2 linked regions of the Homo sapiens genome follow. The protein of the gene in region 2 interacts with the protein of the main gene of each other region in a biochemical or structural test. Each region holds a gene or a part of one and is shown on either strand. Other genes may lie near its edges.

Evidence for each region.
Region 1: the proteins of GLMN (region 2) and FKBP1A form a complex in vitro, tested with the Homo sapiens proteins (2 studies listed by BioGRID).

Annotation. Positions count from the first base shown.
Region 1 is NC_000020.11:1,369,053-1,376,080, forward strand, and holds part of FKBP1A (peptidyl-prolyl cis-trans isomerase FKBP1A), read right to left. Parts: intron 6,552-7,028; coding exon 6,439-6,551; intron 5,647-6,438; exon of another isoform or gene 5,432-5,646; intron 4,127-5,431; exon of another isoform or gene 4,026-4,126; intron 3,189-4,025; coding exon 3,060-3,188; coding exon of another isoform or gene 3,024-3,059; exon of another isoform or gene 2,664-3,023; intron 1,021-2,663; coding exon of another isoform or gene 977-1,020; 3' UTR 1-976. UniProt on the Homo sapiens protein: Keeps in an inactive conformation TGFBR1, the TGF-beta type I serine/threonine kinase receptor, preventing TGF-beta receptor activation in absence of ligand.
Region 2 is NC_000001.11:92,267,965-92,274,992, forward strand, and holds part of GLMN (glomulin), read right to left. Parts: intron 3,689-7,028; coding exon 3,501-3,688; intron 1,813-3,500; coding exon 1,759-1,812; intron 172-1,758; coding exon 141-171; intron 39-140; coding exon 1-38.

The DNA.
Region 1 (7,028 bases), on a different chromosome or scaffold from region 2:
GCAGCAACGATTTCTCACCAAATCACTACACAGGACAGCAAAGGGGTGAGAAGGGGCTGAGGGAGGAAAAGCCAGGAAACTGAGATCAGCAGAGGGAGCCAAGCATCAAAAAACAGGAGATGCTGAAGCTGCGATGACCAGCATCATTTTCTTAAGAGAACATTCAAGGATTTGTCATGATGGCTGGGCTTTCACTGGGTGTTAAGTCTACAAACAGCACCTTCAATTGAAACTGTCAATTAAAGTTCTTAAGATTTAGGAAGTGGTGGAGCTTGGAAAGTTATGAGATTACAAAATTCCTGAAAGTCCATTAGAAAAACCACAGGATGAAAAAAAAAAAAGGCCACAAAGAAGGCTTCAGAGGTCCCTGCTGGCCCAGGGACAGATACCTGTAGTGTCCAGCATTGCAGTGAACATGATCTACTTTCAAAGGCAGAGGGTTTAAGGGGAGGGTGGGTGGGAATGGTGGAGGCAAAGGCTCTCCCCATCCCCACCTCAGTTTTAGGTAGGGCTTTTAATTTAACCCAAAGACATCTCTCAACTTGGAGAGTAATTCAGTCCTCAACAGCGCCTCAAATCTGCTATGGCTTTGCAGCGCAGCAGCAAGAATGTTTAATATATAATAGATAAAAATTTCATCCAAAAAATTAAAATAAAATATTCTTGCAAACCCCCCCCCCAACACCAATTCCTATTCTAATGTTAACCTACCACTTGTGCTGTTAATACTTGACCATGTACTTAATTGGAAACCTATATCCAAAAGACTGAAACTGAATCTTCACCCCAAAATGAAAACAAAATAAAATGAATAACTTGAGGTTTATGGCATATAGTTTAGGTAAACACACATACGAGGAGAAAGGGGAAGAGGAAACAGAGGTGTCGGAAGCAAAGCTGAGTGACAGAACACATTCAGTCAGGGCAGATGTCTATACAAAGTGGAGTGGAACATCAGGAAAAGCTCCATATGGATTCATGTGCACATGTCTGGAGGCACCAGATCCCTCCATGGCAGATCTGTTGGGGACAGAAAATCTGTGAGTTTCCAGCAACTCAGTGTTCTTTGTGTGCAGTGGCGACAGCCACGATGCCATCTGCCACGCCAAATCCCTTCCCCAACAGCTGAGCAGTCTGAGACCAAGCCACTTCTGTTCCAGCTGGAGACAGCCAGAAAGACTTGGGCTGGGTCCCAGGTGAAACAAACTTTCTCCTTAAATTGATCTGTGTGTTTTGTTTAATCTAAGGTTAAGTTTGCCTTGCTGAGGACAGCAGGAGGGCTAGCCACCCATGCTGCTGACAATACAGTTCCCCACTATCATTGGGTCTCAAACTGTGCTACATATAGGCATCACCTGGGGGCTTTAAAAAACTCTTAATGCCTGGGTTCCACTCCCATGATTATGATTAACTGGTTTAGGGTTTGACCTGGGCATCAGGAAAGTCTTAAAAATTTCCCAGGTGACTCTCATGTGCAGTCCAGACTGAGAATAAACTGGTCATTCATAATGTTGAGTATACTGGGAAAATATCTCCAGTATTCATTCATTCACTCAACTTAAAACTTTCTGGGTTTGCCCTTGGATTTTCCTTCCAGACTCTTGCAAGAAGCTGAGACATTCTTTGGCAGTGGGTTGGGAGGGTTACTCGGGGTGACTTGTAGCCTTTATCCCTCTCTCCCCTCCCTCTACCTCATCAAGTTTACAGAAAGCCTGTTCCCAACCAGGAAAATAATTCCAAGGCTCCCTCGAGTACAGTTATGTTCAAAAAATGACTCAGCTCTCAAAGAACAGGAAAGGGATTTTGGCCTAGGTGCAGACCTCTGGGCAGACAAAGGCCCTGTAAAGTGCCAGGGATTCCCTCCCAGTAGCAATGACAGGTGAAGAAACCAGTTATCAAACTTAACCAGGCCTGTATTACCAAGGTGTGTGTGGTTCAAACAGAGAGTTTAAAAAGCCCCTCCACTTACAGATGTGCACAACAGGACCAGGTTACAAGTAGCTCTGACTGCCATCACAAATAGGATGGCAGCCATTTGTTGTGGCTTTCAAACAAAAGTGTCCTCACCCAGGCCTTGGCTGTGACCCTCTGGTTCCTATGGCAGGAGGGGAGCAAATAAAAAGGTCTGGGGCCAGTTGGAAGGAAGCCAGTAGCATTCATGTACTTAATGATTCTAACACTTACATGAAAAGTTACGTGCTACTAGGATACTGAGTTTAGTTCCTAAGAAATGAGGGTGGAAGAGGGGAAAATCAACAAACAGGGGCTCTGGTCCTACTTTGCCACTGCCTGGATGTGACCTTGAGTAAGGCCTTTCTCTCTGGCCCTGTTTCCTTACTGTTGCACAATAAAGCTGATGCAGAGGCCCCTAAGATCCCTTCCTAGAACTGTCTGATCTAAGAGCATCCTTTCAACTTCACAAGCATCCTCTGGCTTCATTTTTCCACTTCACTCACTGATAAGCTGGCCTGGGGGCCTCAAGTGTCCTGGGTGTGGACCCTGAGCAGGTGGACCGATGCAGGAATGCCTCCCTCATACCATCTAATAGGCAGTAACCACAAACCACAGTGAAGAGAGAGCCGCAGAAGCTAGGACATGATATTCATATCCAAAGGGCTTTTTTTTTCCCCCTCTAGCTTCTAGAAACACAGGGTAGAACAAAGTCATTCATTAAGAGTCTTATTTCCAAAGAACTAAAATGTTGGCACTACAAATTTGGCCTACATTTCCATAGTCCTCAATTCAGTTTTAATTTATAAACTACATAGAAAAACATTTAAACAGCTGCCATCTCCATGAGTTGAACTGGGAACATACACATGCCAATTCCTTTCCTTAGGGTGACCAATTTTTACATTCAAAGCATACACTAATAACACTGAAAGGATACTCAATACAGAAAGAATGCAGGGGGAAAAATAGCCTTGTGGTGTTTTTTGTTCTCTCTGCTACCCATCAAACGCTGGGCATAACATGGGAGGAGCAAAGGCAGTGAAGGGCCCTTCAGTATTCCATTTCCTTACCCAAGAACAGGGAGCTAAGGGAGGAGGCCATTCCTGTCATTCCAGTTTTAGAAGCTCCACATCGAAGACGAGAGTGGCATGTGGTGGGATGATGCCTGGGTGCCCAGTGGCACCATAGGCATAATCTGGAGATATAGTCAGTTTGGCTCTCTGACCCACACTCATCTGTGAAAAGAACAAGGAAGACAGACTCAGCTGGACACATGCCCCAACTGTCTCTGTAAGAAAAAGAGCTGTTTACCTAGGTGTTCCTTGGCCAGGATGGTATTGACTTTCCAGTGACTTTGCAGCTGCCCAGGCATCACCACCTCCTTGTGCAGGACTTGGAGGTTGGCAGTCATATTCCATCACCCCTGCATCTCACTCCAAGAAGCCCAATGGCAGTTCAAAACCCCTCCTGACTCTCAGAACGGTCAGGCCCTCAACCTTTCTACGCAAGTCTTAATGACTAATGCTAGGCAGGTAACATTCCAGATGTCTCACCACCTAGTCCCCTTCAGTGATCTGTCACTTAAAGGACATGTTAAGTGCCATCTATGCTCTTCTTGAAAAAGGAATACTCAACTTTGCTTTAAAAAAATATATACACAGGAAGTAATACTTGAGGGTAGTCTATTTTTTCTGTATTTTTTCTATTTATACTCTTTTACCCATATAGGAAAACTTCAAAAAAGACAATATGATTTTCTGGGCTACAAAATAGCATTTACTGAATACCATTTGTGAAAATATTGATATGCCTACAACAGAAAACATCTTTGGAAGGACATACCAGACATTTGCTGTGAGGAGAACAGTATGGATAGTGAGTGACCAGTAAGGAGAGATTTCTACTTTAAAAAATATATTTGTGTATATTTTCAGTTTCAAATTAAATACACAAATAAGTATAAAATATCTACTTTCTGAACAGTGAGCAGGTTCTCTGCAGTATTTCCATCCTTTGACTTATCTCTGCTTTTGGTCTCCATGTGTATGTTCCCGACTTTCCAACTCCACCAGACAGAGGATGAATAAAGAGGAAGCTCCAGGCTGTGAAGCGTCTAGTCCTTGCTCCCCTCAGAAGCTGGGACATGTTGGACCAAGGTGGTAAGGATAGTGAGGTATGGCTTTACCTTGTACAATTCAAAACAATCATATTCCTTGACTCAGCAATTCTATTTCCAGAATATTCTGCTAACAACTCAAAAGTCCATCACAGAAGGAGTGGTTTCATAGGCATATCCACACCAGGGATTAGTCATGAGAAATCATATAGTGGTGGCTTTAAATGTATTAACATGAAAAGATGTCCAAGATGGATGAAAGAAAGCTGCCAAAATGGTCCTTGTGGCAGGCAGGACTCCACGCCTGCAAACATGTAAAACCAAAACAATATCAAAAGGAAAGGAAAAGGGTCACAAGTCAATCTCCCCTTCTTCCTGTGTTTTTAACTCACTTGGTGAAAAAATATGCTATGAAGAATTTAAAAGATATTTTATGTAGATCTCAAACTACCCAGACTTCTCACAAATGACAGGGCTGTGACTGACCCCAAAATACCAGTTAAAGGGGGAGTCAGGCATCTGTCCAATACTCGACCATGCCTCTCCAAGCCTGGGAAGTGAAGTAGGCCGATAACACTATCTCGATGGCAGATACAGCACTCAGTACATACAACGCAGTGATTGTTCCAATGCTGGAGCAGTCACAGAAGATGGGTTGTGGTATGAACAATGGCTGGCATGAAAGATGGGGGATGGGCTACAGATCCAAGAGCCAGACAGACTAGGGAGACAGAGGCAAAAAGCTATGGTTGGCAAGGTTTCCCAAGGGAAGTAAACTACAAAGCCTCTTCCTCACACTGCCAACCCTCTGCCCTGCAGGAACAGAAACCCAGACACCTGGGAGTGGGATGGCTTCAAGTTCCTGAAAGTTGAGCAGTTTATTTGGAGATAAATCAGTGATATTTTATAGAGGAAGTAGAGCAATGTGTATTCTGGAAAAGAGAGAGACAGAAATCTGTCTTTTCATCTTGGTTAAATTTCTAATTCTCCTGGGTGAGAGGGAAGCAGACTAATTACCCATCATGCAGAGCCTAATTATAAAGTTCCTTGGGTCTCAGGTCACTGAAAAACATCCCTTTACCTGGTTAGAGCCAAGAAAAAATTCCTAGGTTTGATGGAAAGACAGAATCCAACTAAAATTTGGCAACCCTGGGTCCCTATTGTCTCCTGGGAATTTTGTAGTGTTGGCAGAACAAAAGCTGTTTCCACAAATGGGGAGGAAAGAGATTAGGAAACACACTCAAGACAAACGAAATGACTTTCTCCATAAGTATGACGTCTCAGAAGTGGTCTCACACAATATGGGTAATAGATAAATACAAATTAAAACCACTGATATCATGTTTTACTCTTATTGTCCAGAGGCCAAAGATTTAACAATATACTGTGATGCTGGGGCTGGGAGGAGATTGCACCTTTATAGCCTGGTGGTGGCAGTCCAGAGTGCAACCCCTAGAGATGGTAACTTGACAAGACCTCTCAAAAACACTACACACAGCTTTTGAGCCCCTCATCCCACTTCTGAGAGTAAGTCCTATGGCAACATGTGCACACGTGGAAAATGAAGTCTGTACAAGGTGAGTTACTGCAGCATTGTTTATAATAGCAAAATACTGGAAATGACTCAAATACTCATTAATAGGGCACTAGCCAAGTAAATTATAGCACACTTACATAAACGAATACTAGGCAGCTGTAACAGAGCTTACTCCTCATTTTTTCTTTCTTTTTTGAAATGGAGTTTCGCTCTCGTCATCCAGGCTGGAGCGCAATGGCACAATCTTGGCTCACTACAACCTCCGCCTGCTGGGTTCAAGTGATTCTCCTGCCTCGGCCTCCCAAGTAGCTGGGATTACAGGCACCTGCCACCACGCCCGGCTAATTTTTGTATTTTTAATGGAGATGGGGTTTCGCCATGTTGGCCAGGCTGGTCTCGAACTCCGGACCTCAGGTGATCCATCCATCTTGGCCTCCCAAAGTGCTGGGATTACAGGAACTCCTGACCTCAGGTGATCCACCCATCTTGGCCTCCCAAAGTGCTGGAATTACAGGCATGAGCCACCGCGCCCAGCCTACTCCTCTTTTATGTAGTGGTATTGCAAGTGTCAAAAATGCATTAAGTGAAAAAGTAAACTGCAAAACAGTATGTGTGTGAAAGCAAGAAAAAAGTTATGTTTTTATATGTGCTTAAACCACAGTACAAGAAACATTAACAACAGGAGCTTCTTGTGGGGGTATTGGTCAGATGGGATGGCATGAGGGTGAGACTTTTCACTTTTTTTATTTTTGAACCGTATAAATATGCCACCTATAAAAAAATATAAAAGGTAAATACTAGAAAGCAAAACAAAACAAATGAGAGAGCATACCTGGGCAACCCCTTCTTCCCAGCCTCGGATCACCTCCTGCTTGCCTAGCATAAACTTAAAGGGCTTGTTTCTGTCCCGGGAGGAATCAAATTTCTTTCCATCTTCAAGCATCCCTGTGAAAAAGACGACTGTAACATGAGCAGCAGAGTAATGACACAAGACAAGTCAGAAACCAGCAGCAGAGCACTCATCAGAGATGCCAGTGCTGAAGAGTCTGGCAGGAACTGCAGTATCTAGGGAGGGTTTCCTGTGACCTCACTGGACATCTAAGGAGTTGCGACAGTCCTACTCCAGACCTGTGAATGCTCTTCCCTGACTCCAAGCAATAACTCGACTACAAAAGGACCCCGCGTACCAGAGATGAGCGGCAGTCCACCTTCTTCTGGAGATGGGGAGTATAAACTTCCTCCTGCCCTGACTCTCCCAGCACCCCGTGGATTTTCTCCCCAGCTAAAAATAACTGTGGTCCCTCGAGGTGCACACTATGTCTAGAAGTCACACACAGTGCAAGAAGCAATATTCCTTCCCAAAATCCCCCATCATCTTTCACATATAATGTGTGTATATATTGCTCCTCCATTGTTCAGTGC
Region 2 (7,028 bases):
TTGTCTTCTATTCTCAATAAACTATTCTCCAGCAGCTCCTACAGATTAAAATATATGCAGATACATATATAGTGAAGTCAACAGCTGTTATTTGTTGACATAACTATGTATTTAAGTTATAATGGGAACAAACATCTTACCAATCCTTTGGAGATAACAGACTCTTCTGTTCTGAAAAATAATATTAAAATTTATCATGAATTTGTAAACTATTTTAGAATGATACTTCATCTTATGAAAAATACAGCAAAAACTGAAATTTTAACACTTTTAAAATGCATATCATTAAGGAGAAATTCTGTTGAAGAACTTGATCAAAAGTTTTAATCCATCTTTGATCTGTCTTTCGGTTTGGCTAAGGCCACTAAATCTGACCAAAATAAATCTACTCAGGGATTATTTCCTAACTTCAAAACAATAGATCTTCAACAGCAAGTGCTAAGAAACTAACTAAACCTGATATAACCAATGCTATATATTCCAGTTGATTATTCTGTAAAATCTTTCCAATTCTTTTTATTCAAAAAAAGACTCAATGACTCTGCAGTTTGGAAATCTCAAGAATTTAGGACTTAGATTCAAAACAATACATATTATCACTGTATGAATAACAGAAACTAAATGTAATGAATATAAAATCATTAAAACATACATAATACAGCAAATTTACAGAATTAGTAACTACTTGTGCCAGGAGACCCTTGGAAATTCCTGCCTTGTATGCTGAAGCTTTGGACATTGCCATGTTACAAATCTTCCTTCACCTGGTAAGAGATGGGACTGATAAACTGTCACTAGTGTTCATAGAGGATAATTGCAAAGCCCTAACTGATCTCAGGGGATAATTTAAACATGTTACATGTTATAGTGAAAGAAAACAAAGCATATAGTTCTGTGAAATTCTTTAATTTCTGTCTAGAAATTATGTATACCTGTTACTCTGTAATTTCCTTTTTTTTTTTTTTTTCTTTTGCGACAGGGTCTTACTCTGTTGCCCAGGCTGGACTGCAGTGGCATGATCTCTGCTCACTGCAGCCCAGACCTCCCAGGCACAGGTGATTCTTTCACCTCAACCTCCCAAGTAGCTGGGACAACGGGCAGGCGCCACCACTCCTGGCTAATTTTTTCTATTTTTTGTAGAGAGAGAGACTGGTTTCGAACTCCTGGGGTCAAGCAATCCTCTCGCCTTGGTCTCCCAAAGTGCTGGGATTATAGGCGTGAGCCACCGTGCCTGGCTTTTTTTTTTTTTTTTTAAATAGAAAGTCCTGCTGCTTAGCACCTCAAATGAGAAAAGTTGTAATTGAATGACATCACTGTCAATAATCTAAATTATAAAAGGTGGAAGTCAAGACACCTCCTTCCTTTTGATGCAATTCACAGACTGTGTCCATGAAGGAAAAATACGGAAGAACTTCTTTTATTGACTGCCCTTCCTTAAGATGGAGGAGGATGCAGTGGGGTAGAGGTGTTTTAATTTACCAACTTTTGGAGTAAGAGAAGAAACCTTAGAAACAGATGACTGTAAAAGCCCTTAAGACAAAATCTTAATACTGTCTTAAGTTTAAAATAAAACAGACTTTGGTGTAAAACCTCCTTGACTCATTTCTGTCTCTCTCGTGAATTATTTGCCTCGCTGTTTTATAAAATAACCAATTAATTAATTAGAGCTTAGCAAAGAAAAGGCAGTCTCCGCTGATCTTAACAAGGACTATTTTAACACTACTATTTCATTTTGAGATACCATCTAAACGATCTTACCTTTGCAAAAAGACTTCAATGTGCCCCATATTAAACTGCAAAAGGTACAATGGGCTAAAATAGAAACAAAACAAATATATATATTATACACACACACAGAGATATGTACACACATACATATTGTTATGGGTTGAATTGTATCTCCCCCAAAAAAGATATGTTGGAGTCCTAACCTCTAGTACCTCAGAATTTGACCTTATTTGGAGATAGGGTTATGGAGGTAATCAATTTAAAATGAGATTATTAGGGTGGGCCCTAATCCAATATGACTGTTGTCCTTATGTAAAAGGAAAGTTTGGAGACAGACACAAGCACACAGGGAGAACAGCATACGAACATGAAGGCAGAGAACAGGATAATGCATCTACAAGCCAAAGACCATCAAAGATTGTGAGCAAATCACCAGAAGCCAGGAGAGAGGCATGGAGAAGATTCTCCTTCACAACCCTCAGAAGGAGCATCCAGAACTATGAGACAAACTATTTCTGTTATTTCAACCATCCAGTTGGTAGCACTTTTTTACAGGAGCCCTAGCAAGTTAATATACATATGCTGTATAAGTTATTTTGGTGATAGAATGTGATGCTTAAGAGTATAGGCTCTGGGGTCAGACAGAGCTATCTGCATCCCACCTATGCCACAAAGTAGTTAGATCTTCAGTGGTATATTAACTTGTCTAAGCCTGTTATTTTCATCTGTAAAATGAGAGAATGCTCTATTTCACAGGCTTATTATAAGGATGAGATAATGCATATAAAGTTATTAGCATAATGTTTCATACATGGTGAACATGCAAATGATAGCCAGTATTTCAACATTTACATACGAATGTACTCCTAGCTATATTCATATATAAATGCACAAACTCACACAAATACCCAATGCCTATAAGACAAATACACAATCCTTATTATCATAGAACTCAAAGTCCAGAAGATATTACATTATAAAATTATATATTTTAAAAATAATTTTAATAAACATTGTGGGAAAAGAAGACAAGGTCAAGGTAATTATAATAGAAGGATTCAACCTAAATTGGGTGGTGAGTGAAGGCTTTCTTCAGAAAGTGACATTTAAGGATAAAGAGAATTTTAAGCATATACAAAGGCCAAATAGGAAAATTCATAACATTTAAACTAGAAACAAAAGAAGGTCTGTGTCACTGGAGCATAGTAAACAAGAGGAAAGGTGGTAGGAGATGAATCAGGTCAATTAAGCAGGGACCAGACCAGGCACAAGTTTGTCTCAGAAGTTATGCAAAGGCATTAAGACTTTATTCTTAAAGCAATAAAAAGCCACTGGAGGGTTTTCAGTAAGGGACTTCTTTTAAGGCTTCGCTTTCTGGTATGTTGAGAATGTGTTAAATTAAAAGGAAGTAAAAGTAGATATATAAATCCACTCAGGATTACAGCAGTAATCCAGTGAAAAGATGATGATACCCCTGGGTACCTGGCTAGTTCCAGGGTGGTCTCAAAAGCTTCAAAACCAAGCCCTGTTTATCATCTTCTGATTCTTGTCCCCACCATTCCCTTACACCTATTTCAACACTCCCCACTTTCATTACTTGTCTACTGCTATCTTTAACAGATTATAGCTGGGATCATTCTTATTAAAAATAGCCTTTACTATTTATTTAAAATGTATTAGTGTGTTAATATGCATATATTGGACATTAGATAAATGAGAATTTTATGAAATTCCTTTTAGAATACATGAATAAACCAAACACTAACTCTTACCTTAAGACCATTGGAAGCTGATCAATATGGATGCCCTGTACAAATACTAGATATGCCAGAGAAGCCATTGAGTCTGCTAACTGTTTATTTTCTTCTTCTTCAAATTCAAGGTAATTCCAAGTTCTCTTTTTCCTTCCATGATTAAAAATCATTTTGGGGAAAGGGTGTCCAATTGCTGATAAAAAACCCTATGAAATGGATAAAAAAGGAAACCATAGCACACAGACTCTAAAATGCCCCCCACCCCGTGTATTCAAACTCCACATTCTCACCAAGGGGAGGTGTAATCACTCCCTTTGAGCGTGAGTGGGACCTATGAGACTTGCTTTCAACCAACAGAATGCGCCAAGATGTCACTCCCATGATTAGATTATATGACAAAAGTGAAGGGGTTTTTGCAGATGTAATTAAGGTCCCAAATCAGTAGATTTTGAGTTGGGTGGCCCTAACTTAATCAGGTATATTTTTAAAGGGGGTCCAGGCCTTCCCTGAGAGTCAGAAACTTTGCTCTCTGACTCTCTCCCTTGCTGGCTTTAAAGAACTAAGCTGCCATGTTATGAGAAGGCTCATGGACAGAACTACATGGCAAGGGACCAACTACAGGCAGCTCCTAGAAGCTAAATGTGGTCCCTGGCTGACAGCCAGCAAGAAAATGGGGACCTCAGTCCTACAGCTTAGAGGAAATGAATTCTGCCAGCGGAGGAAACCTGAAAGTGGATCTTTCCCCAGTTAAGCTTCTGATAAGACTACAGACCCAGTCAACAACTGGCCTGTAGCCCAATGAGACCCTGAGCAGAGGACCCAATTAAGCTGTGGCTGGACTCCTGATCCATAGAAACTGTGAGATAACAAAGGTATGCTGTTTTAAACTGCTAAGTTTGCAGGAATTTGTTATACAGCAATGAAAAACTAATACAGAAGCCAACAGCAAAATCGTATTTTACATAGCATTTTATACATCAGAAGTATTCTAAATTAATTCAGAATCATAGTTTAAAAAGTTTAAAATGATGAATTTTATGTATATTTCACCACAATTTTTTTTAAAAAAGTGCTTCAGGGATATTTGAGAGCAATCTGAAACGTGAGACATACAAATATATGAAGCAAGGGTAAAGCAACTAAGATGAAGAATACTCTAGGAACAATGCTCCACTAACATTGTGCCTGTAGAGAGTGGGATGCAGGAACGCTGGGCAGGGCAGCTGGGCCTGAGGAAACACTGTTGATCTCTCAGTCATCAGGGTTCTCATGTGAGACGAGAAAGAGAAGCATCCTTGCATGAGTGGGTAGGACCACAGGGCTAAATAAAGCTTTCCGCTCAGGAAACAAGATCACTCCTATGCCTCTTATACTGGTACTAATTCTAGCGTACCAGAAAGCACCTACCTTCAGAATCCACTGACATTGATTTTGAGTTTTGGCTCTACCATTTACTACTTGTGTGACACTGGATGAGCCATAAAATGACATAATACCTATGTCAAATATTTATCGAGCAGCTCCACAAAAAAAGCGTAAGAAAGTTAAAGTCACAACAAACTACAAGAGTTAAAAGGGAATGAATGACAAAAACAGCTAAAGCAGAATGAATAACTTCCACACAAGTCACTCTTTTATTCAATAAACACTTAAGTGCAAGGTGCTGGGCCTGACTTTGTGGGGAATTATAAAGCCAAGTATAAGTCTTTTCCAGCCTTCAGGGACTTAAAATCTGCTGATCCCAGATGGTTCCATTAGTCATTTCAGAATACAAAAAGGAACCATGGAAAATCATCCTCAGTCACAAGAGACTGCTATTCAGCGACCAGATGCTAAATATATACTGCTGCAGTGATTTTCAAAGCCATGCATTCTGGTTATAGCTACAAGACAAAAAGTTTATTGCACTCTGATTCCAAATGTCCTTAATCATGAAGCTCCATTTCTTTATTCAGCCAATGCTACATGTGTTTTTTCCAGAGTAAGGTAGCCCTGTTTTTTTTTTTTTTTTTTTTGGCGACAAGGTCTCACTCTGTCACTCAGGCTGGAGTGTAGTGGCATGATCATGGCTTACTGCAGCCTTGACTTCCCCAGGCTCAAGCAATCCACCCTCCTCAGTCTCCTGAGTAGCTAGGACTACTGGTACATGCCACCATGCCCGCTATTTTTTTTTTATTTTTTTTATTTTTTATAGAGATGGGGTTTCGCCATGCAGCCCAGGCTGGTCTTGAACTCCTGGGCTTAAGTGATCTGCCCACCTTGGCCTCCCAAAGGCCTGGGCCTACAAGCGGGAGCTACCGTGCCCAGCCTAAGATACCCTTTTTAAAACATTATTATATGCAACTAGATTCTACAGTGCTGCTCTGGATATCTGAGATCCAATCTGTTCCCAAATCTGGGCCTTCACTATCTATCCACACACCATCCAGCAGTCTTGCTCAGATCCAGGCTGTACCTGGCACCATACAATTTCTCAATATTCATGGCAGCTTTTGTCCTTTCAGAAATGTTCCTGTACTACAGCCTTTGGGACATTCTAGTAGTTCTGTACCAAAATAACTTGTACCAAAGTGAGGATGGCTGAGGCCTGTGAATCCCAACCACACCACACTTACCAGTACTTCTCCAGCACAGAACAGAAGACATCTCCTCATTTCATCTCCAAGCTGGTCTCACCTCTACTTCTAGACTGCTACGTGCATCCTTACTGCTGGCTCTTTCTACTTGCAATGTTCCTTCTACTGAGATTTTAGAACCACTCACCTACATCCTCAGTCTCTTCATAGGATGCTTGTTCTGCCTCACTGCTTTAACTAAACCTGTCTGATTTCTGGTGGGAGATGCTCATTCTCACACCTTTTATACCACAGGGCCTGGAATGCAGCTGTTGGGTAGAGGAGTACAGGTAGGGGCTTAGCACAGTATTGTAGTATTGGCTTTTTCTGTACTTTTCAACAAAAGCACATTTTCCTTTGATGCAGATAACATACTGTCCTTTTCTCTGTCATATGCTGACTTCCTGGTAATTTCCTGACATTCACTGAAGACTCTGGCACCTTCTCATAATCTTTTTCTCTACCCAATTCCTGCTATGATCCTGGGAAAATTCAATGTTCATGGAGATAACCCCTATAACAGGCTAGTCTCATGGTCCTTTATTATTATTAATTTATTTTTCAATCAAGCAACAAGTCATTGCATCCACTCTCATGGTTCTCAATTTCTAAATTCTAGTGACTTTTAGTTCTAATCCATTTCAGTACCTAATCCCATGCTGGATCTCTGAACATCTGGAACTATTCTGTATTTGATACTTTAAACTCCAATATCCCATTTTCTGACCAAAATCTGTCATCCTGTCTCTCCTAGCAATCTGCTTTTCTACTTCTGACTTCTCCAGTCCTGTGATTCCTACATTTTGACCTACCTAGGCATTCCCTCCTAACCCCCCTTCTTTCCCTATCCAACCTGAATCATGGATTATTGACCAGCTGAACTATCTGCACCCTGTATTTCCTTCAGCAGTATCTACCCAGTAAAATGCCA